Linked DNA regions of Homo sapiens. The protein of the gene in region 3 interacts with the protein of the main gene of each other region in a biochemical or structural test. Each region holds a gene or a part of one and is shown on either strand. Other genes may lie near its edges. The genes, in order: BCL10, IRF7, CHUK and BCL3.

Region 1 (7,021 bases), on a different chromosome or scaffold from region 3:
CTGTAATCCCAGCACTTTGGGAGGCCACGCTGGGTAGGTTGCTTGAGTCCAGGAGTTCAAGACCAGCCTGGCCAACATGGCAAAACACCGTCTCTACAAAAATAATACAAAAATTAGTGAGGCATGGTGGCACACACTTGTAGTCTCAGCTATATTACTTGAGAGGCTGAGGTGAGAGGATCACGTAAGCATGGGAGGCAGAAGTTGCAGTGAGCCTAGAATGCGCCACTGCACTCCAGCCTGGGCGATAGAGCAAGACTGTCTCAAAAAAAAAAAAAAAAAAAAAAGAAAAAAGGAAAAAATACCTCATCAAATTACATGTAATAACTGAGGTTTAGGCCAAGATATTTTTCTTTAGGAATGAAAATGATTAAGCCAAGAATGTGAAAATCCTAACAAAGTAGTATAATTAGTAAGGTTAATTAGAAATGAATTTTGGCAAACCGAGATCTTAGGTGGCTCACACTCCATCAAGTGTTCCTCCAGTATCAAAAAGAGGCTGTTTACATGCCTATACGACAATGGAGTGGAAAAGAGATTTTTATTTTTCTATATTGGCAGTTTTCCCATCAGTGACCGGTTTTATTACTGAACAGGAACAGCTTAATGCTGAAAATTTGCTGCTGAATGACTGGCAAAGACTATTAGACTCTTGAAAATTTCTAGCACAAATGCACTGAGGAAAAAACGTTCTTCCTAGTAAGGGTCTATTCTCAAATAGAGATATATTCCCTATTAAAATCAGTCTTAAAATAGAAAATATTTAAAAAAGTACTGAAAGACCTTAAAAAGGAAAAAAAGAAATTACTAAAAAGTACATGATCAACATGATTTACAGTTAGCTATCCTAGAAGTATGCTTTTTTAATTCTAAAAATCCTATTTACAAAGTATGCTTACATTGCATTTTAAAAGACATGCATCAAATGTAAACAAATGATTACAGCCATTTTATAAAAAGTCATATTCTTTAAAACATTTTTTGTCATCATTAAAAATTAAAAGGCAATAAAGTGTCATTGTCGTGAAACAGTACGTGATCTTAAGGGAAGAAACATCTCACTAGAGTTTGCACAAGTTCCTTCTTCTTCTAACTGTAGATCTGGTGGCAAAGGAGGAGCCCCTGGGTCCCCAGGTCTGGGAAGTGTAGTTGAAGAGAAGATGGTATTTTCAGTTCTGCCTACTTCTAGAACAGGCAAATTCAGAGAAGAATTAGTAGAAAAAAAGGGCGTCGTGCTGGATTCTCCTTCTGGATGGTACATGACAGTGGATGCCCTCAGTTTTTCAGAGAAATTACTCTCATCTGAATTTGATCTGGAGAGGTTGTTCGTGGCTCCATCTGGAAAAGGTTCACAACTGCTACATTTTAGTCCTACAATAAAATTATTCAGATGTAAATGAAAAAGTAACTAAAAAAATGGAGTCACTGTCCATCTTGTGACTTGTTAAAGATTACAAGCTAGTTACCCCACAATCAAAATTTAAATAGCAACTTGTAATTTCCGTCATAATCTATTTCAAATCTAATTTGCTTTTCTCAACAACCATGAAGTATACTATTATTTGCATTTTCTATATAACAAAATAGTCTCGTGGAAGTTAAACGACATGCTGTAATTCTCATTTAAGGTACAGCGTACATATAAACTTAACCACCTAAAATTTTTTATAAAATAAGAAATAGCTTTCACAATAAATATTCTTTAGTATTCTGGTACAAAAAATATTAGCTAATAAAAAAATGTAAACGGCAGATGCTAAAATTCTATCTGTTGATCAATGACAATGGCTAATTCTTGAATAATAGGATATTAGAACTAAAAGGAATTTTAGAGGTCACCTAGGATAGTCTCTTATTATTAAAGACGAGAAAAAAGGGCGGGGCATGGTGGCTCACGCCTGTAATCCCAGCACTTTGGGAGGCCGAAGTGGGCAGATCATGAGGTCAGGAGTTTGAGATCAGCCTGGCCAACATGGCGAAACCCCATCTCTACTAAAAATACAGAAATTAGCCAGGCGTGGTGGCAGGTGCCTGCAATCGCAGCTACTCAGGAGGCTGAAGTAGGAGAATCGCTTGAACCTGGGAGGCAGAGGTTGCAGTGAGCTGAGATCATGCCATTGCACTCCAGCCTGGGTGACAAGAGCAAGACTCCGTCTCAAAAAAAAAAAAAAAAAAAGAGAAAAAAAAGGCACAGGACAGTTAAGTCATGTCCAACATTCCAGGACTACTTTGTGGGAAAGTGAGAACTACAATTCAATAGATAATGTCCTGTTTCTCAACCTCACAGTTTACTCAAATGACAGTGGTTGTTCCCATTAGCTGTGGTACGAATGTATCCGCCAAAAGTTCACATGTTGGAAACTTGGTTGCCACTGCAGCAGTGTTAGGAGCTGAGGCCTTTGGGAGGCAACAGGGTCATGAGGGCTCTGCCCTGGACTAATGCCATTATCACGGGAATGGGTTAGTTATTTTGGGAGTTCGACTCCTTTTTCTTCTCTTTCACACTCTTGCCCTCCCTTGCTCTTCCATCTTCTGCCCTTCCACCATGCATGACCCTTGCCAGATGCTGGCGCCATGGTCTTGGACTTAACCAGCCTCCAGAACTGTAAGAAATGAATACATTTCTTTTCTTTAAAAGTTACCCAGTCTCAGGTATTGCTACAGCAGAAAACAACTTAGATACCATCAAAGAATTTTATGATATCCAAAGGGTATAGTTAACCATTATCCAGAGGATTGAAAGAATAAACACAAACACAATTTACCCTTCTGTTAGGCTTAGCAAATATTCAACCTACAGGCACAGAAACCCTGAGTTGACAATTTTTAGGCAAAACCTGCATAGTCTATAAAGGGCACTTACATGTCACTTCTTCCACTAGTTTTTCAACCTCACAGTACAGTCAGCATGTCTATTCCATGCTATACAAACTACTTTCTTAGATATGGCTCAAAAGGGAAAACTTGTAATGTGTCCCAGCAAGGGGACACTTATAGACTATGAGTTCCTTAAGGGCAGAGCCCTAAATTATTCTTTTCTGTATCCCTAATGCCTAGAAGAGCTGTAGAACATCACATGCACATTTATGTGCTCTGGAGAGAGACAGTGAGGAACAGAGGCAGGAGGGGGTTGGGGATTTAAATTGTGTAGGCAATTCCACACAATATTCCAATCAGTGAGTGTATATTCTGGAGTGAGAGTGAAATGGGACAGGTGAATCTGCTATTCTCTTAATCTGTTTCCATGCTTTCACATCTTGCCAGACTAGTTTAAAGTCATGAATATTTTATGCAACGTGATTCCTATAAACATATGCCAATTACTTCATCTTGTGATCAACTGGTGATCATAAGAAAAACTAGCAGAGTTGGACTTTTACAATACTTTGCCTAAATACTGTTCTTTATGTGTGATGTACAGTATTTTCAGAGCTTACTCTTGAATAGATTAACTTTACATTCTACTGACTTTAGAAACAAATCCTTATGTATGCAGGGATTTCATAATAGTTTTCTATAAATGGTATTAAATGAATACAAATACAGGATATTGAGAGATATTCCACTTTTTCAATGTAATAGTGTCAAATAAGGTAAAATAAGTGCAAATTGAATATAATTTTGAAGTTTAAACTTTTTGAAAGCAAAATGATCATTTCTGTTTTTGTTTTGCTTTTCTGAGACAGGGTCTTGCTCTGTTGCCCAGACTGGAGTGCAGTAGCACAATCATGGCTCACTATAGCCTCAATGTCCCAGGCTTAAGTGATCCTCCCACCTCAGCCTCCTGAGTAGCTGGAAACACAGGTATGCACCATCATGCCTGGCTAATTTTTTAATTTTTTGTAGAGACAAAGTCTCGCTATGTTGCCCAGGCTGGTCTCAAAACTCCTGACCTCAAGCAATCCTCCTGCCTTGGCCTCCTAAAGTGCAGGCACCTGGCCTGCTCTGCATTTTTTAAAAGCATTATTACATTTAAATTAGCTCTTAGATAATTAAGATATCTTACCTTTCAGATGTTCTAGTTTTATATTTCTAAGTTTCAGCACTTCATCTGTAATCTTCTGTATCAGGAAGTTCTGTGTTTTTTCTCGCCGAATAGATTCAACAAGGGTGTCCAGACCTTTTGGGTTTTCCTGTAAGTAGTCTAACAATTTTCCAGCCCTTTTTCTACTTGATGTTCGACAAGAAATTTCTTCAGTGTCTTCTCTACTGAGTATTTTTTTTGCACGTAGATGATCAAAATGTCTCTCAGCTATGATTTTCTCACACAGGTATACACGTAAATTTTCTAAGGCCTAAAAGACATAAAATATGGTTCAATGTTATTTTTAACATCTAAGAAAATCACATACGTGACTATTAGTTGGCAGTCTTAGCTGGTGTGAGACAATGTTCTAAAGTCAGGAGGCTCAGGCCTTCTAAAATGCATGCTAATTAAGATGAAAGTCCAAGTAGACACAAGTAGGTCCTAGACATTCCTCACTGCTTTGATCTCACCTTCAAACCTAAAAACCAAGACCAGGCTGTTGTGAAGAGGGACCAGCTGAATCTAGAGGGCCTGGGTCCTTGGAAACAGGGAGGTCTGTTGAGGGCCATCTTCGGGAGTAAAGATGAGGGCAAACACTACTGTACATTTTAGCTATCAGTTGGCAAGGAATGCAGAATTAGTCAGGACCAATAACTTAGTGAGAGGTCTCACAGTCTGTAACTTTCTCATGTTTGTTATTAATTACTCCATTTCCTTAAACTGTTAAAGACAAAAAACAAAACCCTAAACTGAAAGAGCCCATAATGTATCTGTCTTTGGGGTCAGCTGGAAAGACTACACTCTAACTCAGTGAATCAGTCTTGGTGGAAGGGAGATGGAAAGATGTGTGGGGAATAGGGAGTGTTCGAAAAATGAAAGAAATAAAGAAAAAGGACACCACAAAAAAGCAAACCTAGATTTGAGAAGTGCCTAAGAGCTTAATTAGTAGAAAATCCATGTTGATCTCAATAAATGGCATTAATAATTTGGTACCGGTGACTGTATTTTAGCTCCTCTATTTACTAGATATATGATCTTGGGCAAGTAATTAACTCCTCTGTGCTTGTTTCCTCAGCTGACTGTTATATGAGGAATAAAGATATGCAAAGTGCTTAGAAAAGCGCTTGGTACATAGTAAGTGATCAATATATGTTAGTAATAATGACAAAGGTAATGGCAGGAAAGTAGGCTAGGTGAAGGGTTCCTGTGGTTCTTGGTCTACGAAGTTCCACATTTACTTGTTTATTCACATGACAAGTATTTTACAAATCTAAATTCCTAATATGCCGAGTGCTGAGCACTGAGTATACAAAGATGAACAAGATTTGAATCCTACATGCAAAGGGCTCATGGTCTAGCTGGGAATACATATCACAGGTAATAATTATAAAACAATGTGATCGGGCCCAGAAAAAAAAGATTATAGGTCAAATACAGGAAAAGCACAGAGTGAGCAAATAACTATGTCCAGGACCTGGTCCTTATCATATCTGGCATGGACTATTAACAATAGAAACCTAGCTGCACTTACTACTTCCTTCCCCCTCCTCAACATTTCTCCTTCAGGAGAAAATGGAAATCTGGAGTATTATATGAATTTTACTAAATTTTTTTTAAGGATCTCACTCTGTCACCTAGGCTGGAGTGCAGTGGCTTGATCATAGCTCACTGCAGCCTGGAATCCCTAGACTCAAGTGATCCCCATCTTAGCCTCTTGAGTAGCTAGGACTACAGGTGTGAGCCACCATGCCCGGCTAATTTTTAATTTTTTTTTTTTTTTTTTGTAGAGAAGGGATCTTTGCTACATTACCTAGGCTGGTCTTGAACTCCTGGCCTTAAGTGATCCTCCCACCTTATCCTCCTGAGTTGTTGGGATTATAGGTGTGGGCCACTGTGCCCAGCAAATTCTAATATTGAAATTTTGTTAATTTAGAAAAAAAATTAAAAACAATGTTCTGCCCTGTCTTAAAGGATAAAGTTCCTTTACGTGGCAGAAGAGTAGAAAAGTTAAGGGCATGGCTCTAAAGTTGGATCAACCTCAGTGCAAATCTTGAATCTAGTACTCACCCTTGTGAGAGCTGGGCCAAGTTACTTCACCACTCCAAGCTCCAGGTATGTTATTGATAAAATAAGGATTAAAAACTTAACTCACAGGACATCAAGGAGGACTAAATGGGAATACTATATATGAAGGCCACGCATAGTCTCTGTACACAGTAAGTACTCAATAATAACTAATTATGGAAGACAAGGTTCATTGATAATATGGCTCCTACCTACCTCTCCAGCTTAATCTATCACTACCTTTGTCCTGAAAATTTATGCTCTACCTAAAACTATCTGTCTCTCTACATTTCCTTACGTATTTTTTGTCTGCTTTTATCAGACCCTAAAGCCCCTATTCGTCCTTTAAGATTTAGGTCAGTGGTCATCTTCTTTGGAAAGGTTTACCTAACTCCCCAGAATGAGTTAGGCACCCCGTCCTCTGTCCTTGTAGCACCTTGTGTATACACTTCATCTTTCTATACACCAGGACTCCACTTCTTTCACCTCATTTCCCAATTCATTCCCAGACATTTCCATCCTGCCCCAGTATTCTTCTCGAAGTCACCAATGACCCCCTTATTGCCAAATATTTTCAGTCTTCATTTCATTTTTCAGCTGCATAAACACAGTTGACTACTCCCTCCCTGAAACAAGAAAATTGTTACATGAATACCACACTCTCCTGGTTTTCTTCCCATCCCTGTGGATACAACTTTTCAATCATTTTCTTGTTGTTGTTGTTACCCTACTTTCAAGCTAACAATTCACTTTTTAAAATTCTTCTCTTTAAAGGGTTTTACACCATTTTTCTCTTCTAGCTCACAGCTTTCTAGGTAAAATCATTCAATTCCACACTTACATTTCTAGCTCAGATCTCTCTTCTGATCTTTGACTTTGCAGATGTAATTGCTGATCTGACATTTCCATGTACTAATCTAATTACATCCT
Region 2 (7,807 bases), on a different chromosome or scaffold from region 3:
CAGTGGGCCTGAGCACATGGCCTCCCCTCCTTGAGGCTCTGGTCTCACCTTCACCAGGACCAGGCTCTTCTCCTTGGGCCTCCCAGCTGACAGGTCCTGCCCGAAGCCCAGGTAGATGGTATAGCGTGGGGAGCCACGGCGCTGCCGTGCCCGGAATTCCACCAGCTCTGAAGAAGGGGACTCTGCTGAGTACCTGGCAGGCAGGTGCTCCCAAGGACCCCTGGAGACAGCCCCCCAGGCAAGGGCCTCACTGACCTTGGAAGAAGACTCTGAAGTCGAAGATGGGGGTGTCACAGTTCCGAGGCAGCAGGCAGGCTGGGGTGGAGGGGCTGGCGGAGCCTGGGGGTCCGCCCACCTCCCAGTACACCTTGCACTTGCCCATGCGCCGGGCCCACAGCTGTGGCCCCCGAAGCTCCAGGTGCAACCCAGGGGCCACGTGCCGCAGCAGTTCCTCCGTGTAGCGCAGCTGCTTCTGGTCCGGGAGCTCGGCAGGGCTGGGGAATGCTACCTGCTGGGGGTCTGTGGCCCGGACAGCTGGGTCTGGGGGGCCGTATAGGAACGTGCAGCTCGGGTGTCCCACCACCTTCTGCAGCACCGTGCGGCCCTTGTACATGATGGTCACGTCCAGCGCCCCTGGGCTGGGCTCTGTGTGGAGACCAAGCTGTGAGTGACGGGGGTGGGCGGGGACAGGCTGTGAGTGACGGGGGTGGGCGGGGACAGGATGTGAGTGACGGGGGTGGGCGGGGACAGGATGTGAGTGATGGGTGGGCGGGGACAAGCCGTGAGTGACGGGGGTGGGCGGGGACAGGCTGCCCCTTCCTGGGATGCACTCACCTTGCACCGCGGTGCAGGCGCTTGGGGAGGGTGACAGGTACGGCTCTGCCTGGTGCGGGGACTCTGGGGCCGCGGCCTCGCCTGCATCCGGAAGGGAATCCTGTGCTGGCACCTCATCCCTAGCCTCTCCCTGTGCCCCAGGCCTCCCAACCCCTACCCCTCTCACCTGTCGTTAGTGCCGCGGGCTGGGGCCCGGGGCTGGGGGTCGTCTCTACTGCCCACCCGTACAGCTCCCCAGCAGGGAGCCCTGGGCCTGAGGAGGGGAGGACAGTGGGAACGGTGGTCCCCTCCTAATTCTCCAGCTCCCCAATCCCCAGCCCCCTTCTAAAGTGTCCGTCCAGGTGCACTGGCCCCTCCCGCGCTCCCCCCCTCCCCGGGCACGCCCACACCTCCAGCACAGGCCCCAGTCAGGGGAAGCCCTTCTTGTCCCTCTCCAGGAGCCTTGGTTGGGACTGGATCTGCCCCCCATGACGCTGTCAGCAGATGGTCTGCCAGGCAGCTCTGTTGCACTGCCTGGAGCAGGAGGTCCCCCTTGTCACCAGCTGGGGCAGGGAGGGGGCCTGGGGCTTGGAGTCCAGCATGTGTGTGTGCCAGGAATGGCCCTGGGGGCCCACCCTGCAGGGAAAAGTCAGGGTGAACGTAAGCAGCTCCGCGGCCTGGCAGGAGGAGAGGCAGGCAGAGAGAAGGGTACCTGTGGTGGTGGGACAGCTGCGGGGGCCTCTGCCTCAGTCTGGTCCGTGCCTGGGCCTTCTGAGAGAGAATGGGGCAGGCGTTAGGCCCCGACACCAGAGTGAGAGATACAAGGAGAGCCTGGTGTAGCCCCCACCAGCTTCCTGGCTGTGAACCCTTAGGCTGTGGCCTGAGGAGGTGGGGATGTGGCTCTCCACCTGTCCTGGGCCTGCTGGCAGCCTCTCCCAGAACAGCTTCTAAAACCACAAATCTGACCCAGAGAATGTTCCCCTTTGCCCAAGCAGGACGAATGCCAACGCCCTTGGCAGCCGGCGTCGCTCACCTCGCCAGCACAGCTCCCGGCTGAGCGCGTACACCTTGTGCGGGTCGGCCGGGTCCCCCGAGTTATCCCGCAGCATCACGAAGCGACGCGTGCTGCGCAGTGCGCAGCGGAAGTTGGTTTTCCAGCCGGCGCGCTCCGCAGTCTCAGCCTCGGGGGGCGGGCCACCTCCCCTGCTGCTAGGCGGCCACCTGCCGCGGGCCACAGCCCAGGCCTGAAGAGGGGGACAGAACACGTGTGCCGGGCCCGCGGGGTCCTAGGCGGGCTCTCCCACCCGGGGCGGGGCGGGGCTGGGGTCCCCACCTTGAAGATGCGCGCGTCGGCCTCGCTCAGGTCCTTGCGCGCGAAGTGCTTCCAGGGCACGCGGAAACAGGTGCGGGCCTCGTCCAGCCACTGCAGCCCCTCATAGCAGCCGCTGCTGATCTCTCCAAGGAGCCACTCTCCGAACAGCACGCGTGGGGCTGCCCTGCGGGTGCCCGGCCGCGGAGAGTCAGGGCCGGCTGCAGGGCGCTCGGGGACTGGCATCTGGAGAGGGTGGGCCGGGCTCTTACCTCTCAGGAGCCAAGGCCATTGCTCCTTCTGCAGGGGCAGTTAGGTGGCGGTCAGGTGTTATAACAGGGGAGGTAAGGGCTCCTGTCGCAGCAGACGCCAGGCCGCGGCCACAGGTCGTGTGGCCAGGTGTCACAGGTGTCCACAGGTGTGGACTGAGGGCTTGTAGCCACCGACGCTGCCTCGGTATGGATCTCTTGGCAGAGGGGGCTACAGGTGTGACTGCAGGTGTGGCCGGCGCGCACACATGAAGTCACAGGTGTTGAACCAGTGTCCAGGCCTGGCGGGAAGGCGCAGGCCGGACCCTGCGGAGACGGGAAAGGCGACGTCAGGGGCGGGTCAGGCTCCCGGGAAAGCGAAACCTAAACAGTGGCGCTTCGCACCCTCCTCGATCCCACCCCGTCCGGTTCTCAGCTCCGCGGAACCCCGCCTCCGCCTCCGCCTCCCTCCCCGCCCGACCCTCATCTCTCAGGCTCCCCCAGCTCTTGGCTCTACCCCTCCGGGGTCACGGAGCCCCCACGGAGGCTCTCGCTCCCGGCCTGCACCGCGTGGGTCTGGGGTCCCCAGTACCTGGGTGCCAGAGCCGCCGGGACGGGAAGTTTCGTCTCGCGGGGAAGCGGAGGGCCGGCGCTTTTATGGTGGCCAGGCGGGAGTTTCCGGGAAGGGCGCGCGCCGCCTGTTCTTATTATTGGATGCGACCAGCGGAACCCCGCCCCGGCCAGCGCGGAGTAGGGAGGAGTGGAGGGCGTTGGGAGTGGCTGCAGTGAGCCGAGATGGAGCCACTCCACTACAGCCCAGGGGACAGAGCAAGACTCAGTCTCAAAAAAAAAAGGAAGTGGGTAATGGGAGGTGGACGTGCCTCGAAAAAGGGGCAGCTGCACCGTTTGCGTTTCTTTTTTTGAGATGGAGTTTCGCTTTTGTTACCCAGGCTGGAGTGCGGTGGCACAATCTTGGCCCACCACAACCTCCGCCTCCCGGGTTCAAGTGATTCTCCTACCTAAGCCTCCCGAGTAGCTGGGATTACAGGCATGAACCACCACGCCCGGCTAATTTTGTATTTTTAGTAGAGACGGGGTTTCTCTATGTTGGTCAGGCTGGTGTCGAACTCCCGACCTCAGGTGATCTGCCCACCTCGGCCTCCCAAAGTGCTGGGATTTAGGCGAGAGCCGCCGTGCGCAGCCCCCTTTGGGTTTTTTACATTGTTCAGTCAAGAATATCAGATACTCTCACAATTAAAACATTTGGAAAGGAATTAATGGTGTATTTCCATTAGGGAAAGTGCTGACAAGCCGCAAGGGATCCCTTGATGGTTCTGGGCATGGGCGCCCAGCCTGGGCTCTGGCTTTGGGAGCAGCGAGGGGAATGTGTCTCTCACCCCTAGGCCTCCTGGTCTGGCTCCTGCTCAGGCCACACGGCGCACCCACCCCCAGCGCGCCTCAGTCCAGGTCACTGGGCAGGGTGTTTACTGCTGCGCTCCAACCCAAGCATGTAGATTTCAGAAGGGGACTAGGACCCCCGGCAGGTGTTTGAGACCACCGGCTCCCAAGTGCGTCGCCTTGGGGGTTTGCATCGGCTCCTCAGCCTCCCCAGGCAATCTCTGTGTAGGGTCGGGAGCGGGAGGTCTGAGATGAGCCGGGTGCCTGAGATCTCCGGTGCAGGTCGGGGGAGGGGAGCCCCCCTCGGGCTGTGGTTAGAGCGGGAGAGGAACTTCCCAGACTAGCTGGCACAGAGCCTCGGGAAGGCGGCGGGCACTGCAGGTGGTTTACGGGAAGTGCTGCAGCCTTGGGGTGGGGACAGCGTGGCCAGACCCACCGCCTCATCTGCACACCTGGGCTCAAGCGCTAATGACGACAGGGGACTGAGTGAATGGGACCCCCATGGACCCGCGCGCCTGCCCCACGCCATGGCCTGGGTTTCGGGAGCCTTGCTTTATTCTGCCTCGGGTCGGAGGCTGGGGGAGCGAGACCTCCAGTGCCCGTGCGGCTGGGGGAGAGGGTGGAGGGGCCACTTAGATGTAGGAGTCATCACCACCGGGCGCATCGTAGGGACCCCCACCCCTCCCCGCGCCCTCGCCCTCATCGCCGCTGCCGGAGTCACTGGCGCCATCCACGTCCAGGGTGGGCGCGTTGAGAACGACCACGTCTGCCTCCGTCCCGATGTCCTCGCCAAACCAGACAGCCTTGTACCCGCCCTCCGGCCGCCGCTCCTTGGTCAGGATGGACCTCACCGCCGTGGGGCTTCCGCCAGCTCGGGCCGCTGCGGGGGGCTCAGGGGCACCGCCTGGGGAGGCAGGGCCGGGGGGTGCGGGCTCTGCGGGCATCGGTGCCTCCGCGGGCTTGGGGTCGTGCGTGGGGCTGGGGACGGGCGCCCAGTTGGCCTTGTGGTCAGGGAGGAACGCCTGGTTGTCAAAGCCTTGGGGCTGGGGCTCCTGCAGGCGGGAGTCGAGGCGTCAGCGGGGTCCCTGGGTCTCTGCAGCCTTGGCCCTGCACACCCTCATTCCACGCTGGACACCCCTCCGTCTCCACATCTGTCCCTCTGCCCTCCCCTCTCCTGTCCCCCGTCCCCCACTTCCTGCCTGGTCGCCTGCCCTGTTCTCCATCCTGGGCCTCACCGGAGCTTTGCCACAGCAGCACTTGAGCCGGGGGCCATAGTGCTTGTGGACAAGGACGGCGAGGCCAAGGAGAGCCAGCAGCAGCAGCGCACCCAGCACCCCGCCCAGGGCCGCCATATCCACCACCGAGAAGCGCTTGTCCTCCGAGGGGCCGCCACCTGGCATCGCAGTGGAAAACGTCATCATCCCCGCACTGTTGAGTGCCCCAGGCATTTCCCATGCCAACCTGTGCCAGGCTTGGGACACTTGGGTTCCACCCAGGCCTGGGCTGTCTCCCAAATCTCAGGCTCTGCTGACCCTGGCTCAAGGGGCCTGTGTGTCCCATCGAGACCCTGCCCACCCCCTCCCCCCCGGGAGGCCAAGCTGCTCACAGGAGCTCACAAGAGGTGCAGGGACTTGCAGGGTGAGCGGCAGCCGTGGGAATCGTGGGATTCGCTGGACCCCACATCTGGCCTCTGTCCTACACACATCACAGGTTACCTCACTGGGGGCCTTGGGCCTGTCTGTGTCTGTCAGTCCCAAACAGACTCCTCTTTGGGATTTCATGGTCAGGCCAGGTCAGCCTGGGGTGGACCCTTCCTACAGCGTTTCCCATACCAGCCAATGACCGGAGTCAGGGAGGGAAGGCAACAGAGTGGGTGCTACCTGAAGATGGGGTGCTCTTGCTGAGGGGCATCGGCTGAGAGGTTCCTGGCTCTGGGGTCTGTGCTGTGCCCCCACCGGGTGTGGTTGGTTGGTGGGAGGTGCTGGTTCCCATACCGGGGGGCATCGGCTGAGAGGTTCCTGCCTCTGGGGTCTGTGCTGTGCCCCCACCGGGTGTGGCTGGTTGGTGGGAGGTGCTGGTTCCCATACTGGGGGGCATCGGCTGAGAGGTTCCTGGCTCTGGGGTCTGTGCTGTGCCCCCACTGGGTGTGGCTGGTTGGTGGGAGGTGCTGGTTCCCACACCGGGGGGCATCGGCTGAGAGGTTCCTGGCTTTGGGGTCTGTGCTGTGTCCCCACCGGGAGTGGCTGGTTGGTGGGAGGTGCTGTTTTCTGCACCCGGGGGCCCCCCGGGTGTGGACGAGGTTGGTGGCCTCAGAGTTGTGCCAGAGGGTGGATGAGGGCCTGTGCCTCCCCCAGAGCTGGTCGTGGAGGGTCCCTGGGAGGGCTCAGGGGGTCTGGGGACCTCGGAAGTGGTGCTGGTCCAGGGCCCAGTTGTTCCTCCAGCCTCTGGGGATGGGGGGACATCTGGGGGCCGGGAACAGTGCTTGGGCTTGCCTCTGCCCGCCCCTTGCACACCTACCGCGGGAAAGGAGCCACCGAAGGGGCTTATTTGGAGAACCCTGGGGGCTCACCTGTGGAGGGGGGCTTACCTGTGGAGGGGGGCTCCTGTTCGGAAACTTGTATCTCAATGACTGTGGTTGCGGTGCCAGAGGTCACCGTGTTGTGGGCCTCAACCTGGGGCAGGAAGGGGCTTGTCCCTCCTAGACACATCTTTAAGCCCCACACCCTTGGAGATGCCCGCCTGCCCTGCCCCGCACCTCTGCGTAGAAGGCTCCCGCCTGTGCCAGTGTGGTGGTGGTCAGCACAACCTCTCCCTCCATCCGGAAGTGTGAGTGGTTGGTAATTCGATATGTGATGGCCGAGTTGAGGTCCTGGACAGGGTCTCATTGAGTCCCCGGCCAGGCTGCCTCCCACGTACAGCCCTGACCCACCCACAGAGGGGAGGCCTTGGATGCACTCTCTACCGAGAACTCCGGGTCCTGAGCCTGGATCCTCAGAGGCTGAGAAGGGGCAGCTGCATCCTTGACCACAACGCCCGCTCCAGCGCCACGCGCCACGGTGCCACGATACAGTCTCTGGGGGAAGCGGGGCGGGCTCCCGGCCGCAGCCACAGCCTCCACGGTGACCTGGGTCACTGAGTAGCGGGCAAGGTCGGCCTGTTGGCCCTGGAGGCGGGGGAGGCAGCAGTGACTAGTGGGGTTGAAGGTGGAGCTGGCGCTGAAGGCTGGGGCTCAGGAAAGGCAGGTGCAGACTTGGCGGGGGCCCTGCCCCGGCCCCCCAGCCCTGACCCCCCGCCCTACCTTCCACCCTTCCCCCTCTGCCCTGCCCCCCATGCAGGTGCCCACCTCACCTTCACCAGCAGAAGGAAGGTCATGGGGCTGGGGACACTCCTGGCCACGGTGAGGTTGCCCGAGTCTGGGTGGATGATGAATGTACCATTCACGTTTCCTGGGAGGATGATGGAAGTGCTCAGCCCCGGCCCCCTGAGGCCCAGGGACCCAGCCAGCTCTGCCCAAGGTGGGGATGGAGACAGGGACAGAGGGGGTACAGGGCATTGTTGAGGGCTGGGCCCCACTCACCCCTAAAGATGCTGTAGATGATGGGCTGGTTGATGCCGCGGTCTCCGTCCTCAGCGTAGATGGGTCCGGGACGCAGGACGAGGGGAGATGGCTTCAGGGATGGCGGAAGGGAGGGCACGTCGTGGGGCTGGGGTGGATGGCCCCAGCCTGGCCCCTCTGACTCCCCATCAAGGGCAGGGTTGGCTGAGGAGGGGCCCAGTCCCGCTGGTGGCCGGGCGTCCCTGCCTGCCTAGGACAGTCCCTTGTCCCAGCATCACAATCAGTAACACCCCTGTGGGTCCCTTACTAATGAATGAGTCCAGTGGCCCAAAGATACTGAGTCCCATTTGCACAAGGCTTGTCTTGACGGGTAAGCAAACATTTAGGAAGTGGGGGCTCCCGGGGTCTGCATTTCTGCCTCCCATGTACTGTTTGGTGGCCCCAGGTGCCTTGGTGCCAGGAAGGTTTGCAGACAGCCTGTGT
Region 3 (7,021 bases):
GGGTTGGGTTGCTTTTTCGTTTTGTTGATTATTTTTTCTACTGTACACTTTTTAGTTTGAAGGCCCACTATTATTTCCACTTACAAATCCTAACACAGATGCCCAAATAAGTGGTGCTACAGAAATACTAAACTGAGGCTGGGCGTGGTGGCTCACGCCTGTAATCCCAGCACTTTGGGATTACAAGACAAGTAGATCACTTAAGGTCAGGAGTTCAAGACCAGCCTGGCCAACATGGTGAAACCTTGTCTCTACTAAAAACACAAAAATTAGCTGGGCTTGGTGGCACAACGCCTATAATCCCAGCTACTCAGAAGGCTGAGGCAGGAGAATCGCCTGAACCTGGGAGATCAAGGCTGCAGTGAGCCAAGATCGCGCCACTGCACTCCAGGCGACAGAGTGAGACTTTGTCTCAAAAAAAAAAAAAAAGAAAGAAGAAAAAGAAAAAAAAAGAAAAAAGAAAGGGATACTGAATATTCCCAACACAGAGAAATTATGTTTTAGCTGATGGATATGCTAATTACCCTAATCTGATCACTACACAGTGCATGTATTGAAACATCACTATTTACCCCATTAATTTGTATAATTATTTGTCAATTTAAAAAATTAGGCTGGGCGCGGTGGCTCACACCTGTAATCCCAGCCCTTTGGGAGGCCAAGACAGGTAGATCACTTGAGGACAGGAGTTTGAGAACATCCTGGCCAACATGGCAAAACCCTGTCTCTACTAAAAACACACAAAAAATTAGTTGGCCATGATGGCGCACACCTGTAATTCCAACTACGCGGGAGGCTGAGGCACGAGAGAATCACTTGAGTCTGGGAGGTGAAAGTTGCAGTGAGTGGAGATTGCACCATGGTACTCTAGCCTGGGTGATAGAACAAGACTCTTATCTCAAAAAAAAAAAAAAAAATTAAAAGCGTATTAACAATTTTGTTTGTTTGTTTTTGAGACAGAGTCTCTCTCTGTCACCCAGGCTGGAGTGCAGTGGTGCGATCTTGGTTCAATGCAGCCTCCACCTCCCAGGTTCAAGCAACTCTTCTGCCTCAGCCTCCCGTGTAGCTGGGACTACAGGCATGCACCACCATCCCTGGCTAATTTTTGTATTCTTAGTAGAGATGGGGTTTCACCATGTTGGCCAGGCTGGTCTCGAACTCCAGACCTCAAGTGATCTGCCTGCCTCCACCTCCCAAAGTGCTGGGATTACAGGCATGAGCCACCACACCTGTATCAACAAAATTTTAAAAAAGAAATACCAAACTGTTTTTATAACCTGAAGCTGATCCTTTTCATGTGAATTCCAAATGTCATAACACAATTGCCAGTATTTCTCTTATTAAGAGACTTTTCTTTAATATAAATCTTTATGTTTAAAAGGGGAGTAGGGAAATCTTCAAAACTGATACGGATTTGCAATACAATTATACTACCTGAGACTTTCCATGCCTTCCCAATTTAGGCAGATTTCACACTATGACAGCTGCCACTTATAGCAATAGAAAATCCTATAATGGACATCTACTTTTACACAGGATATTAGAGTATGTCATCATGGCATCTCACTACCAAAGCTCCAGGCCAGAAGGAAGCAAAAGAAAGAAGAGGAAATACAACCTAAATTTATCTTTTTGCTCACTATAATATTTAATGAGTACCTACTATTGGTAGGTACATACTATTGGTACATACTATTAAGTGTGTTGTGGTGGTAGTAGTGGGTATACAAACTGAGTACCTTATGATCCTTGCCTTCCATACAGTTATAGTCAAACAGAAGATATTAAGATATACTAAGAGAACTAAGGTACCAGGCAAAATGTGATAGGTGTTATAATCAGTGTAAAGTATCATACACTTGGCAGTAGGAAGCAGGCACTTCATAAAGGAGGCACTACTTGAGCTAAACTTTGAAATGAAAGACTGAAATGGGAAAAGACTGAAAAGAGTTCCTTTAGGCAGAAAACAAGGTGAGCAGAAGCAGAAAAGTAGAAAGGGATGGGCATAATCAGAGAATACAATTAATCCAGTTCAAATGTACCTAAAATGATGGCCTCTCAGGGCATTAGTAAGAGATAAGTCCAGGAGTGTAAGTTGATATGAAACCAAGATAGGTTTTGAGTACCAATGAAAGGGTCTGGACTTTATTCAATAAGTGAAAGAAAACTATGCAAGCCTTTCTAAATTGAGAACCTGGCAAGCTCAAAATTGTTAAGATATTCAAAAGATAAATTTGATAAAATAATTGGATATATCGATTGAAGAGAAAGGAAGAGTCAACACATCCAAAGTTTCCCACCTGGGTAACTGGAAAGGTGACAGTGCAAATAAGAAGTGTAGGAAATCTATAGAGGTAGATTTAATGGGCCAGGTGCAGTGGCTCATGCCTGTAATCCCAGCACTTTGGAAGGCCGAGGTGAGCAGATCACCTGAGGTCAGGGTGTCAAGACCAGCCTGGCCAACATGGTGAAACCCCATTTCTACCAAAAATATAAAAATTAGCTGGACACGGTGGCAGGCACCTGTAATCCCAGCTACTCGGGAGGCTGAGGCACGAGAATCACTTGAACCCAGGAGGTGTAGGTTGCAGTGAGTTGAGATCGTGAGACAGAGTGAGGCTCCATATCAAAAAAAAAAAAAAAAAAAAAAGAAGTAGATTTAATGGATAGAACAAATATGTTCAGTTTTTAATAAATTAAGTTGTAAGTGCCAGTGGAACAGCCAGGTAGTTATACAGTTATACAGCAGTTATAAGTCCTTGGCAGAAGAGTCACAGCTACAGAGATAAATAACTTTAGGAGTTAGCCATATGTAGTTTATAAGTAAAGCTATACAGTTGAAGAGGCTGCCTAATAAAAGAAAGGAAATGTAATGGAAAAAGAGAGAACCAAGAAGAGACTCAGAATATAGTTACATTTAGGGGCGTGAAAGAGGAGGCAAAAAAAAATAATAATTAAATGCTACTGTTTCATCATTATTTTTAGTGGTAGGTTCAGTACACTTCTTTCAACTCTTCTACATATCTAAAGATGTTCATAATAAACAGTTGGAAAATATGCATACAATCAGACTTGCTAAGCTATTTTTTCAAAAGGGAAATATTTCAGTAACTGTTTTGTTGCTTCCTTTTTTAAGTGAAAATCAAACAGACATCATTCCTTTCTTGTACAATATATATAAACATTTTGGGAAAATGTCCTACAGTAACACCAAGCTGTTTTGCAGTTCATGCTTCTGTACTTTTGCTCATGATGCTCTGCTGCCTATAAATCTCTCCCGCCCTCACCCTTTCCCTAAAAACTCTCATTCTTCAAAATTCAGTCCTATTATCATGTCTAACAAGCATCCTTGAAGCTTCTTGAACTACTATAACTAGTACCTTATACATACCTTATTCTGCATAACCTCATAATAATATTGATGCTTTGAGGAAGATATTACTGTCCTTGAGATAGAGAGACATTTGCTCAGGTTCACAGATAGGTAAATAGTGGTGCTGCAAACTGAATTAAAGTCTGTAAACTATAAACTCCATAATGTGGACTCTTTCCCCGTGCCCTATAACAAGAGGCTCACAGATGCCCTTCAGAGCAGAAACTATGCTATGATTCCTATGACAAGTATGAAACAAATGCGAGATGTGGTTCATTCACAGCTGAAATGTTTCAGAGGCAACACAGAACTAAAGCCCTGCTTTCCTAACACACTGAGGGATAATTTATTCTTTGGCACATTAGAAGGAAACCAAATCAAGAAGAAGCCAGGTATCTTTTCAGTGTTAGCCAAGAATGACATCCACATGGCCTCAAGTTTCTATTTAATAAAGTATGCCAAGGTCGGGCACAGTAGCCCACATCTGTAATCTCAGCACTTTGGGAAGTCGAGGTAGGAGGATTACTTGAGGCCAGGAGTTCAAAACCAACCTGCTCAACACAGTGAGACCCCATTTCTACCAAAAATTTAAAAATTAGGCAGGAGAGGTGGCGCACACCTGTAGTCCCATTTACTCTGGAGGCTGAAGCAGGAGAATCACTTGAGCTCAGGGGTTGCAGACTAAAGTGAGCTATCTCGCCATGTACTCCAACATTACATGATTATAATTTCTCATTTCAATTTTAGAAACCTGTATACTACAAACAATCAATACAAATGTAAAGACTATTGATGAGAGTTGTTTCTGGGTACACTGCATAATAGAACTATCTATAGCTCTCATTCATATCAATAAATAATTTACTAAGAACCTGATACATGCCCTGCTCTGTACAGAATGCCATGGTTAGGAAGGGTAGGGTGGGTGATTGTTAATAAAAGAAGTAAAACAATCCCAACATTGAAGAAGACAACAGTCTATATGAAGATGCATGAATGGAAGACGAGAAAGAGAATATAGCCTTTAAATGACAAATTTTGTGGCAGAGACCATTTAAAGAAAAGCTCTTAAAGATATGCCAGTGTAGGTGAGAAGATACACAGAAATGGATATCCAGGCAGAAGGATAGCATCTGTCAAAGCACAAAGGTAGATAACGGGTTTGAGGCATAAGGAGCAGTGACAAGCTGGTCTTGTATGAGGTAAAGGTTAAGAGAAGCAGGTACAAGGCAAAACTTGGTTAGGGAAAGCCCCCCCAAAAAACCAAGCAGATCAGTTTACACTTGACTTGTTAAAAAAAAAAAAAAAAAGAACTATGTTAGTTTCTTGGGCAGAAGAATAAAAAAGCATTTTCAGAAGATGAGATAGGTAGTACATATTGAATGAACTATAGGTTAAGGAGTAAGTGCAGAGCCATGAAAGGCAGATAGGAACCTTCCTTACCAAATCAAATCCAGTATGACTAGACATAAATGAATCGAGGATAATGGCAACAACATGGGAAAAGGTAAATAAAAAAGTTGCTTCAAAGGAGTAATTAACAAAGACCACAGAGAAGCAAACTGAGACAGCTTGCTAAATAAACTTTTTAAAAAATCAGCTCTAAGAATATAATTTTCTTTTTCAAATAAGCATCAGGGCTGGACGCAATGGCTCACGCCTGTAATCCCACTTTGGGAGGTGGAGGCGGGCAGATCACCTGAGGTCAGGAGTGCGAGACCAGCCTGGACAACATAGCGAAACCCTACCTCTACTAAAAATACAAAAATTAGCTGGGCATGGTGGTGCACACCTTTAGTCCCAACTACTCGGGAGGCTGAGGCAAGAGAATCGCTTGAACCTGGGAGGCGCAGGTTGCAGTGAGCCAAAAACATGCCACTGCACTCCAGCCTAGGTGACAGAGTGAGACCCTGTCTCAAAATAAATAAATAAATAAGCAACAGGAAAAGATTATTAAACTGTATTTATGCTAATTTTCCAAATAAACTTGTTACTTTCAATGCTGGTCTTATGCAGTAGACCCATTAAGACTAACCTTCAAATTCAAAATGTGATCCATTAATACAAAACATCTTGGCTGCTTCAAAGTAAGGTCAACAGGTCCTCCTCTCTGCTGAGGGTCCCAATTCAACATCAACTGTAGCCAGTTTTCCATGGGTTCTACTACTAAACTAGAAAACATACAAAATAGGGTGAAAATCAAATCATTATGTTCCAATTTCCCTTTATACTGTTAGAAAGGTAATTTTGCAGGTTGTCCATTTTCTTTCCCACATCACTTGTCTGTACCATTTCATAAATTACTTTCAAATTCATGAAATGACAGGGGACAAACTTTTTTCCATCAAAAACTACTCAAAACTCCACATATGTTAGTTACTGACAACTCTGACGGATGAGTCCAAATCCATTCTGCAAATAACCCATTTACTTCATTATCCTAAGAGCCTTCTTAGGACATATGTCAAACAGTTAAATGGCAGTTCTTGTTTCCACCAGACCTGTGCTGTCCAAAATGGTAGCCACTAGTCCCAAGTGGCTATTTATATTTACTATTTATTCAAAATTCGTTCTCTAGCCAAACTAGCTACATGTCAAGTAGTCAATAACCTCATGTGGCCAACAGAAATATAGAAGGTTTCTACATCATCACAGAAAGTTCTACTGGATAATGCAACTTGAAACAGACAACTACTCTCCTGCTCCTTTACAACTCTGGAGAAACTGAGGCAAACTTCCTTAACTAAAATATACTTACCTACAAAGGCTATTTGGTTGAGGTAAATGGCTACTAAACCGAACTTCTCCTGACATCTCTTCACATGCAAATATACACTTTGGATCCTTCTTCTTAATCTTCTCATGCCTATAAAATCAAAAGCTACCTCAGTTGACAAAGTGATTCTCACAAATTAAGATTTCTTGCCATTTAATTATATTTAATTGTATATTTCAAAGGCAATTAAACAATTAAAGAAAGAAAAAAAAAGACAAATGAAAAAATTTCCATTCCCATTAAGCATGCCCAAGTTCTCATCCATTTCTTACCAGGTAAATGGCTGCAGATGATGCAAAAAAGGCCTATATCCAGCAATACATTCAAATACCATGGTCCCAAAGCTCCAATAATCAACAGTGGCTGTGTAAGGCTTATTCTCAAAGAGCTCTGGGGCCTTCAAAAGAGAAAATGCTTTAAACACCAACACTGTATGGGAAAAGCTACTTTATTTTTGACCTACTATATTCATGATCTTCAGAAATAAGAGAATCCTATACACACTTAAATTCAAAGAAACAAAACAGGTCTCACCAGATACTGCAGTGTTCCCACAAAAGATGTACACAGACTTCCTTGATCAACATCTTTGGCATATCCCAGATCAATTATTTTATGTATTATCTGCAAAATAATAAGACAGATTAAGTATTAAATGGTAGAGAAATTTAAAAAGGAAAGACAACAATATCCTTACGAGGCTGTAGACAGGGTAGTGGTGAGGACCTTGGGCTCTGTAATAACACAAAAATATTTCAAGTCTGAGTGCCACCACTTAACTAGGCATGTGATCTACCAAGTTATTTAACCTCTCTCAGTAATCTAATTGGATGACTAACAGTCCCTGCTTCACAGAATTGTTATTAGGATCC
Region 4 (7,373 bases), on a different chromosome or scaffold from region 3:
TCGGGAGGCTGTGGCATGAGACTCACTTGAACTTGGGGGGCAGAGGTTGCAGTGAGCTGAGATCGTGCCACTGCACTCCAGCCTGGGCGACAGAGTGAGACCCTGTCTCAAAAAAACAAAAACAAAAACCAAACAAAAATAGTGGCCTAGGAGGTAAATGCTCTCAAGGTGCCCATTCTTCAGAGGAGGAAACTGAGGCTCAGAGCAGGGAAGGGCCTTACTCAAGGTCACACAGCCTGTGGTGGAGACCGAGTTCTGACTCAGGTCCACTGGGAGCTGAGTGGCCCTGTGTTATGGACGGCTGGTCTTCCCAACCACCCCTCCCCTTAATAGGGGACTGTCACTCACGTGTCTCCGTCCTCATCTGCACGGGTGGCCATGGCGATGTCAGCAGAAAGGGGGTGTTCCATGGGGCACATCATGGGGTATAGGGGTGTAGGCAGGTTCACCAGAGGAAACGGGGAGCCCATGGCCCGAGTGGGGTACAAAGGCAGTAAGGCTCCTGGACAATGGAGGACAGAGAAGGGACATGGGTGAGGCCACACCCACAGACCCTCAACCCGCCCCCCACTTCTAAAACTTTGCTCCTGTGGTGTCACCTGCCCTTTCTCCTGGGTCCCTTTTGCATCCCATACAGGGTCCTCAGGGCCTAAAACAAACCCCCTTCCACGTCCCTCCTCTGGGCTCTGGCAGCTTCCTCTCCCTCTAGGGCTGGTCACCCTCATTGTCACTTATCTTCTGACCTCAATCTCCAATCAGACAAAGGGTCCCTTAAGAACAGAGGGTGCACCCATCATCACCTAGCAGGGGACCCCAGGGACTGTCTGCAGAGTGATTTTGTGGCTGATGAATTGCTGGGTGCAGGGTGTGGGATAAATGTAGAGTGGGTTTGGGGAGAGTGGAGGCAGAGAGGAGGTGTTACCAGAAGCCTGTTCAAATTGTTTTTGAGATGTAGTCTCGCTCTGTTGCCCAGACTGGAGTGCAGTGGCACGATCTTGCCCCACTGCAACCTCTGCCTCCCAGGTTCAAGCGATTCTCCTGCCTCAACCTCCCAGGTAGCTGGGATTACAGATGCTGACCACCACGCATGGGTAATTTTAGATCAAACTGTTTAAAAAGGGGCCACGGCAGGCCGGGCGCTGTGGCTCATGCCTCTAATACCAATACTTTGGGAGGCCGAGGCGGGCGGATCACCTGAGGTCAGGAGTTCAATACCAGTCTGGGCAACATGGTGAAACCCTGTCTCTACTAAAAATACAAAAATTAGCCAGGTGTGGTGGTGCATGCCTGTAATCCCAGCTACTCGGGAGGCTGAGGCACAAGAATCCCCTGAACTTGGGAGGCGGAGGTTGCAGTGAGCCGAGATCACGCCAATGCACTCCAGCCTGGGCGACAGAGCAAAACAAAACTCTGTCTCAAAAAACAAAAACAAAAACAAACAAAGGCGAGGGGACCATGGCAGCAGGCAAATCCATACCAACCCATCACACAGACGGGGAAAACTGAGGCCTGCTTTCTCACTCTTGGAATAGGAAAGCTGGGAGGCCGTGGCAGAACTCCTGATGCACATAGCTTGAGGCTCTCCAGCTGTCACGCTGATGGGGTGGAGGGTGCAGAAACTACCTAAAGTTTTGGGGCTCTGTAGAACGGCTCTCTGCAGCTTTGGGGGTCAATTGGGGATGGTGACGTGGCCACAGCTGTGGTAGAGGACACCCCTTCTTGAGATCAGGGATGGAGATAGGATGGAGAGAAGAGTGTGTGGTCTTCGTCATCTGCTGATCCTTGTGGGCCCTCTGTTCTTGAACTCCCAAGTTTCCAGGTCCTCGTATCTCCAATACCAGGCCTTGAGGCCTTGAGGCTTTCTGTCTGGAGACCCCTGAAATTTTCATCCTGCCTCTAAATTACCCAAAGTCTCAGAATTACCCAATCTTAGGATCCTCAGTCCCCTGATCCCTTCTGCCCACCTGATCTTGACCTCAAATAGGACCCTGATCACTTGTGGCCCCACATAACTGAGTACCCAGAAACCCGGGTCTCTGTTCTCCTGGGTCCTCAAGACCCCCTGGTATCTGGGTCCCTGGAGCTCTGGTTCATTTCCTTGGATCCTTGTGATCCCAGATATTGGGGTGCTCAGAACCCCATCTCTGTTTTCATAATGCCCATGTCTCCAGATATCTTGGTTCCTGAGATTGTGACATCCTGAGATCCTCAGTATCTGTCTCCTTAGAACCCCAGTCTCTGTTACCCTGACTCCCTTTGATTCTAATAATATCAGGATACAGGGAACCCCAGTTTCTCCAGCCCAGCTCAGCTTCCTCATAACGCTACACATCTGGCTTAAGAGCTTGTACTTTCTTGCCCCTAGGATACCAGGCTCTGTGCCCTGATTCCCTGACACCCCCATATTTGTACCACTGGGCATTGTCCCTGGCCCCCCCCCCCCCACGTCACTCAGCCCCTGGGCTTTGCCCCCCAGGGTCCCCAAATCCCCAGATCCCAAGGCACAGCTTACTGGCTCCCCGATGATCTCATATCTATATCCTTGGAACCTGGGCTTATATCCTCTTGTCCCCCAGGTCCCTGGAGAGACACCGGTTTGTGCCTCAAGCTCTGCCTCCTGGCTCTGGTGACCCTATGCTCTGTGTGGATCCCACCCGGCCCGGACCCTCGGGGGCCACTCACCGGGGTAGTAAAGCGCCTCCGGCCGGGCCAGGCCGTGGGGGGGCCCGGGGACCGCCGGCAGGTCGCAGCCGCCGCGCAGAGGGTCCAGGGGGACGACAAGGCCCGCAGCGCCGCGGGGAGCGGCGGGCTCCGGGGAGGGCGCGCGCAGCGGGCGCTTGCGGAGCGGCAGCGCGGCGCCCGGGAGTCCGGCGGCCTTGGGCCGGGTGCGCAGGTCCACGGGCCCCTCGTCCATGGCCCCCGCGGGGCATCGGGGCATGGGGCCGCCGGGGACGGCGGCCGGAGAGCGGCTGGGCTCGGCTGCACGGGAGGGTGGTTTCGCCGGGCGCCGGGACTTCCCCTGCAGCCGGCTGAACTGAAGGGACTTTTGTCGGCCGGGGCGGTGCCGGCCGCCCGCCTCCCCGCCCCCGGCCCCCCCGGGGCCACCCGTACGCCCCAGGGGTTTCCTGGACCCGCCGCTGCTCCCGCCGCTCTGAGGTGCAGCCTGCCCTGCGCCCCGCCCGCGCCGCGCCCCGCTTGCCCCCTCCCGGCCCGCGGCGCCTGGGGCAGCCAGGCCTCGGCGGGGGAGGGAGAGGAAAGGAGGGGTGGGGGGAGAGGAGGCGGGGTCGGGGGGTGGGGGGGTGTCCCCACCCCTGCTGCCAAGGGCCGCTCTCTCTGCCTCTGTTTTTGTCTTTCTGGCCCTATCTCTCAACATCTCTATCTCTGAGTCTGTAACTGTCTCTCTGGTTCTCCTGTCTGAGTAGGTGTTTCTCTCCGCAACCCCGCGTTTGTCTCTGTGTGCTCTGTTCCGTCTCTGTCTCTCTCTTTTGTCTCTTTGTGTCTGTCACCATCTCTCTGCCTCTCAGTTGCTGTCTGCTTCTCTGTCTCTCAGGAGGCCTTGGCATCTCTGGGACGGGGTTTGGAATCTCGGTTCCCACTTACTCGCTGGGTGACCTTGGCCAAACACTTCCCCTCTCTGAGCCGTTTCCTCCTTAGTGGGAGTGAAGAGACGCACCCGGGGCAGGGACTGGCACTCGGCAGGCGGCCAGGAACGATTCCTCTCCCTCCCCTCTTCCATCTCTGCCACTCCACGTGCCTCATCAGCTGTGGGTCTAAAGGGGCTGGGGGTGGGGTGAGGGTGGGGAGCGCTCCACTGATTGTGTCTCTGCACTCGTTGGGGGCCCTGCCCCCAGCCGGGGCCCGCGGGGCACCGGGGTGGGTGCTCGGAAAATCCTAGGTGCACAGAGAGAAAGAGACATGGAGACAGGCGCAGAGATCTTGAGAGAAAGAGAGATAGCAAGAGACACGGACACCAGGCCAGAGTCAGCGCGACCGAGGCCGGTGCTGCAGGAGCGGGGAGCAGTTTGGCTTCCCCCCGACTTCCCCTCCCACCTCGAGGAGGGGTTGATGGGTGGGGAACAGGCTAGGCGGGTTGGGGGCATGACTCAGGCTGGAGATGGGAGGGAGGGAGGAGGGAGGCGGGACTCTTCCCCGTCTCCTCCCCTCCTCTCCCTCTCCCCGCCCCGGGGTGGGGCCCCGAAGGTCCGGGGCTTTCCCGGATTTCCCTGGGGGCGGGGCAGCCGCTGGGGTTGAGTCCGGGTCACTGAGTCACAGGAGGCGGAGAGGGAGGCTTTGGGGACACAGGGGGCGGGGCATGGGGGCTGCACCCCGGACTTGCCCAGGGGGCACGCGGCGTCTCTCTGGTTCTCTCCCCCGGTCTCCTTCTGTCTTCGAAACTTGCCTGACCTCCCTCTGGTTGTCTCCTGCCCCGCCCTCTGTCTCTGTCTCCCCATCTCTGTTGCTGTCTCTGTGTCCCCTGGGACCTTGAAAGTGGGTATTGGGGCCCCGGGAAGGGACTTTGGCCGGACTCGGGCCCCACCCGAGTGGATCGTTAACCCAGGATGTGAGAAGTGGCTGTGTGGAGAGGCCTCACCCCTTCCCTTCCTTTCGACCTCTCTCTGGATCTCCCTTATCCCCCTTCATGGCGAAACATCCCGAGCACAGACCTGTGTTAATTCCACCTCCACCCCTTGCTCCCGGTGGGACCTCAGACAAGCCATCCCCTGCCTTGAGACTCAGTTTGTTCTTCTGGAAAATGGGACCAATGGCAACCCCTGCCTGCTGGTGTTGTGGGGGCCACAGCAAGGGAAGAGGGGAGGAATTCGGTTGGACAGGCTGGGGGCTGTGTTCCCTGCCCATCCAACCCCACCCCTGGGGACCCTCAGACACAGGAGAGGGGTGTGGAGCACTATCCCAATGCACAGAAAGGAAAGCTGAGGTTTGGAGGGGCGAGGCTTAGGGTGGGGACCCTCAGAGGTAGGGTGGGAAGGACACCCAAGCCTGTCCCACTCCTGGCATCCCAGGGCAGCTGGTGCAGTGGTTCCAACCTAGCAGGACTGTAGAGGGGAGAAGATGTGATGGGTCCGGTGGGAGCTTCGAAGGGCTGGGAGAGACGGTGCTGCTGGAAGAGAGGGTGCTGATGGTTCTCTGAGGTTGGAAGAGGGATAAAAGGGTCAGAAGGAGGAGGATCTGAAGAAGGAAGATAGGTCTGAGAGAGAAGTAGATGGTTTAGTGGGAGGAGGGGGAGAGGATCTGAAGGAGGAGGACAGGGTCTGTTGGAGGAGGTAAGGGTCTGATGGAGGAAATAAGGGTCTGAGGGTGGAGGCGAGGTTTGGAGGGAGGAGGTGAAGGTCTGAGGGAGGAGACAAGGGTCTGAAGGAGGAGATAAGAGTCTGAGGAAGGAGGCGAGGGTTTGAGAGAGGAGGTGAGGGTCTGAAGGAGGAGGTGAGGGTCTGAAGGTGGAGGTGAGGTTCGGGGGGAGGAGATGAGGGGCTAAGGGAGGAGGTGAGGGTCTGAGAGAGGAGACGAGGGTCTGAAGGAGGTGGGGGTCTGAGGGAGGAGGTGAGAGTCTGAAGGAGGAGATAAGCATGTGAGGAAGGAGGTGAGGGTTTGAGAGAGGAGGTGAGGGTCTAAAGGAGGAGGTAAGGGTCTGAAGGTGGAGGTGAGGTTTGGAGGGAGGAGGTGAGGGTCTGAGAGGAGGTGAGGCTCTGAAGGAGGAGGTGGGGGTCTGAGGGAGGAGGTGAGGGTCTGAAGGAGGAGATAAGCATCTGAGGAAGGAGGTGAGGGTTTGAGAGAATAGGTGAGGGTTTGAAGGAGGAGGTAAGGGTCTGAGGGAGGAGGTGAGGGTCTGAAGGAGGAAGTGAGGGTCTGAGTGAGGAGGTGAGGGTCTGAGGGGAGGGGAGAGTATCTGAGGGAGAGGGCACAGTCTGAGGAAGTCTGAGAAGCACTAAGTGAGGGGACGCAGCTCTGAGGGAGGAGGAGAGAGTTGGAGGGGAAAGAAGGGTCTGAGGAAAGAAGATTTGGAGAGAGTCTGAGGGTAGAGGCCAGATCTGAGGGAGAAGAAAGAGGCTCAGGGGAAAAGATCTGAGGGTCCGAGGGTGGAAGGCATGGACTAGGGGAGGAGGAGCTGGTGGGGTGGAGGGGTGGAGAGGCGTGCCTCCGGAGCCAGCAGGGACCAAGGGGAGGGAAGGGAAGGGAGGCTGGGAGGCAGCCCCGCCCTGCAGCTGTCTCTAATTTCCCAGAATCTTCTGCTCTCAGGAAAGTCCCAGCTCCCACAGCAGCCTCCCTCCAATGTCGGGAACGGAGGATGCGGAACCAGGATGGCCACCCCCACCCTCCCCCGGCTCCTTGCACCCCAGGCGGAAAGGACTAGGGTCTCCTTTCTCTGGGCCTTGGCCTCTGGAGGGCCCCCACCCGCAGGGGCAGCCCCTGGATGAGTCTTAGAAACTTCCCAGAGGAGGCCAGGAAGTTCTGCTTGGTGTCTAACCACTTTCCCCTCATGCAGGCCGCCCTTTGTACCTGTTCAGATCTCCTCCCCAGCTGCTGTTTCTTTTTCCCCAACCCATCCTGGGGGAGGAAAGGCCAGGAATTTACCTGCTCAAAGTCCTGAGAGGGAAACGAAATTCCATCTGGAAGTCTGTAGGCTTGAGGCAGCTTTCTTGCTCTCAGGGGCCTCAATTTCCCTTTCTAAGAGGAGAGAGTAGGGCTGGTCAGGGCCTAAGTTCCCATCTGGCTCAATTACTGGGTCTTGTCCTGCTTTTTTTTTGAGACAAGATCTGGCTCTGTCTCCCAGGCTGAAGTGCAGTGGTGAGATCATAGCTCACTGTAGCCTTGAACTCCTGGACTCAAATGATCCTCCTGCCTCAACCTCCCAAGTAGGTGGGACTACAGGCATGTGCCGCAATGACTGGCTAATAAAAAAAACAATTTGTAGACTCAGGGGGTCTCACTGTGTTGCCCAGGGTGTTCTCGAACTCCTGGGCTCAAGCGAACCTCCCTCCTCGGTCTCCCAAAGTGCTGGGATTACAGGCGTGAGCCACCGCATCTGGCTTCCTTGTCCTACTTTGTTTTGAATTGAGGCCTGGGTCCAAGTCCTGTCTCCTGATCGTTAGCTTTGTGACTTCCGGGCAGTTACTTAACCTCGTGGAGCCTCAGCTTCCTCATCTGTAGAGTGGATCACATCAAGAAAATATGACTCTGTCCCATGGGGTCTGATGTATAGAAGGCTCTTGATGCAATTTAGCTGCTATTAGTTTTATAATAATAATAATAATAATAATAATAATAATAATAATATAACATTATATATTATTATTGTCCTCATCAAATATCCTGTGTTTTCAATAGCAGGACCTGCTTCATTGGGGAAAATAGAA

What was found.
Region 1: the proteins of CHUK (region 3) and BCL10 form a complex in vitro, tested with the Homo sapiens proteins (2 studies listed by BioGRID, with this or other methods).
Region 2: of the proteins of CHUK (region 3) and IRF7, one has a biochemical effect on the other in vitro, tested with the Homo sapiens proteins (one study listed by IntAct).
Region 4: of the proteins of CHUK (region 3) and BCL3, one has a biochemical effect on the other in vitro, tested with the Homo sapiens proteins (one study listed by BioGRID).

What each region holds. Positions count from the first base shown.
Region 1 is NC_000001.11:85,266,612-85,273,632, forward strand, and holds part of BCL10 (B-cell lymphoma/leukemia 10), read right to left. Parts: intron 4,296-7,021; coding exon 4,007-4,295; intron 1,372-4,006; coding exon 1,016-1,371; 3' UTR 1-1,015. UniProt on the Homo sapiens protein: Plays a key role in both adaptive and innate immune signaling by bridging CARD domain-containing proteins to immune activation.
Region 2 is NC_000011.10:612,951-620,757, forward strand, and holds the start of IRF7 (interferon regulatory factor 7), read right to left. Parts: upstream 3,001-7,807; 5' UTR 2,963-3,000; intron 2,698-2,962; 5' UTR 2,415-2,697; coding exon 2,395-2,414; exon of another isoform or gene 2,369-2,394; coding exon of another isoform or gene 2,310-2,368; coding exon 2,147-2,309; intron 2,058-2,146; coding exon 1,847-2,057; intron 1,585-1,846; coding exon 1,526-1,584; intron 1,450-1,525; coding exon 1,224-1,449; intron 1,088-1,223; coding exon 1,001-1,087; intron 916-1,000; coding exon 835-915; intron 646-834; coding exon 256-645; intron 168-255; coding exon 49-167; intron 1-48. Other genes in the region: CDHR5 (cadherin-related family member 5 isoform 1 precursor), read right to left, coding at 4,401-4,820, 5,004-5,161, 5,649-6,230, 6,356-6,440, 6,524-6,637, 6,731-6,931, 7,117-7,214, 7,346-7,436.
Region 3 is NC_000010.11:100,212,587-100,219,607, forward strand, and holds part of CHUK (inhibitor of nuclear factor kappa-B kinase subunit alpha), read right to left. Parts: intron 6,774-7,021; coding exon 6,684-6,773; intron 6,547-6,683; coding exon 6,422-6,546; intron 6,240-6,421; coding exon 6,132-6,239; intron 5,545-6,131; coding exon 5,409-5,544; intron 1-5,408.
Region 4 is NC_000019.10:44,744,356-44,751,728, reverse strand, and holds the start of BCL3 (B-cell lymphoma 3 protein), read right to left. Parts: upstream 3,022-7,373; 5' UTR 2,939-3,021; coding exon 2,683-2,938; intron 503-2,682; coding exon 349-502; intron 1-348. UniProt on the Homo sapiens protein: Contributes to the regulation of transcriptional activation of NF-kappa-B target genes. In the cytoplasm, inhibits the nuclear translocation of the NF-kappa-B p50 subunit.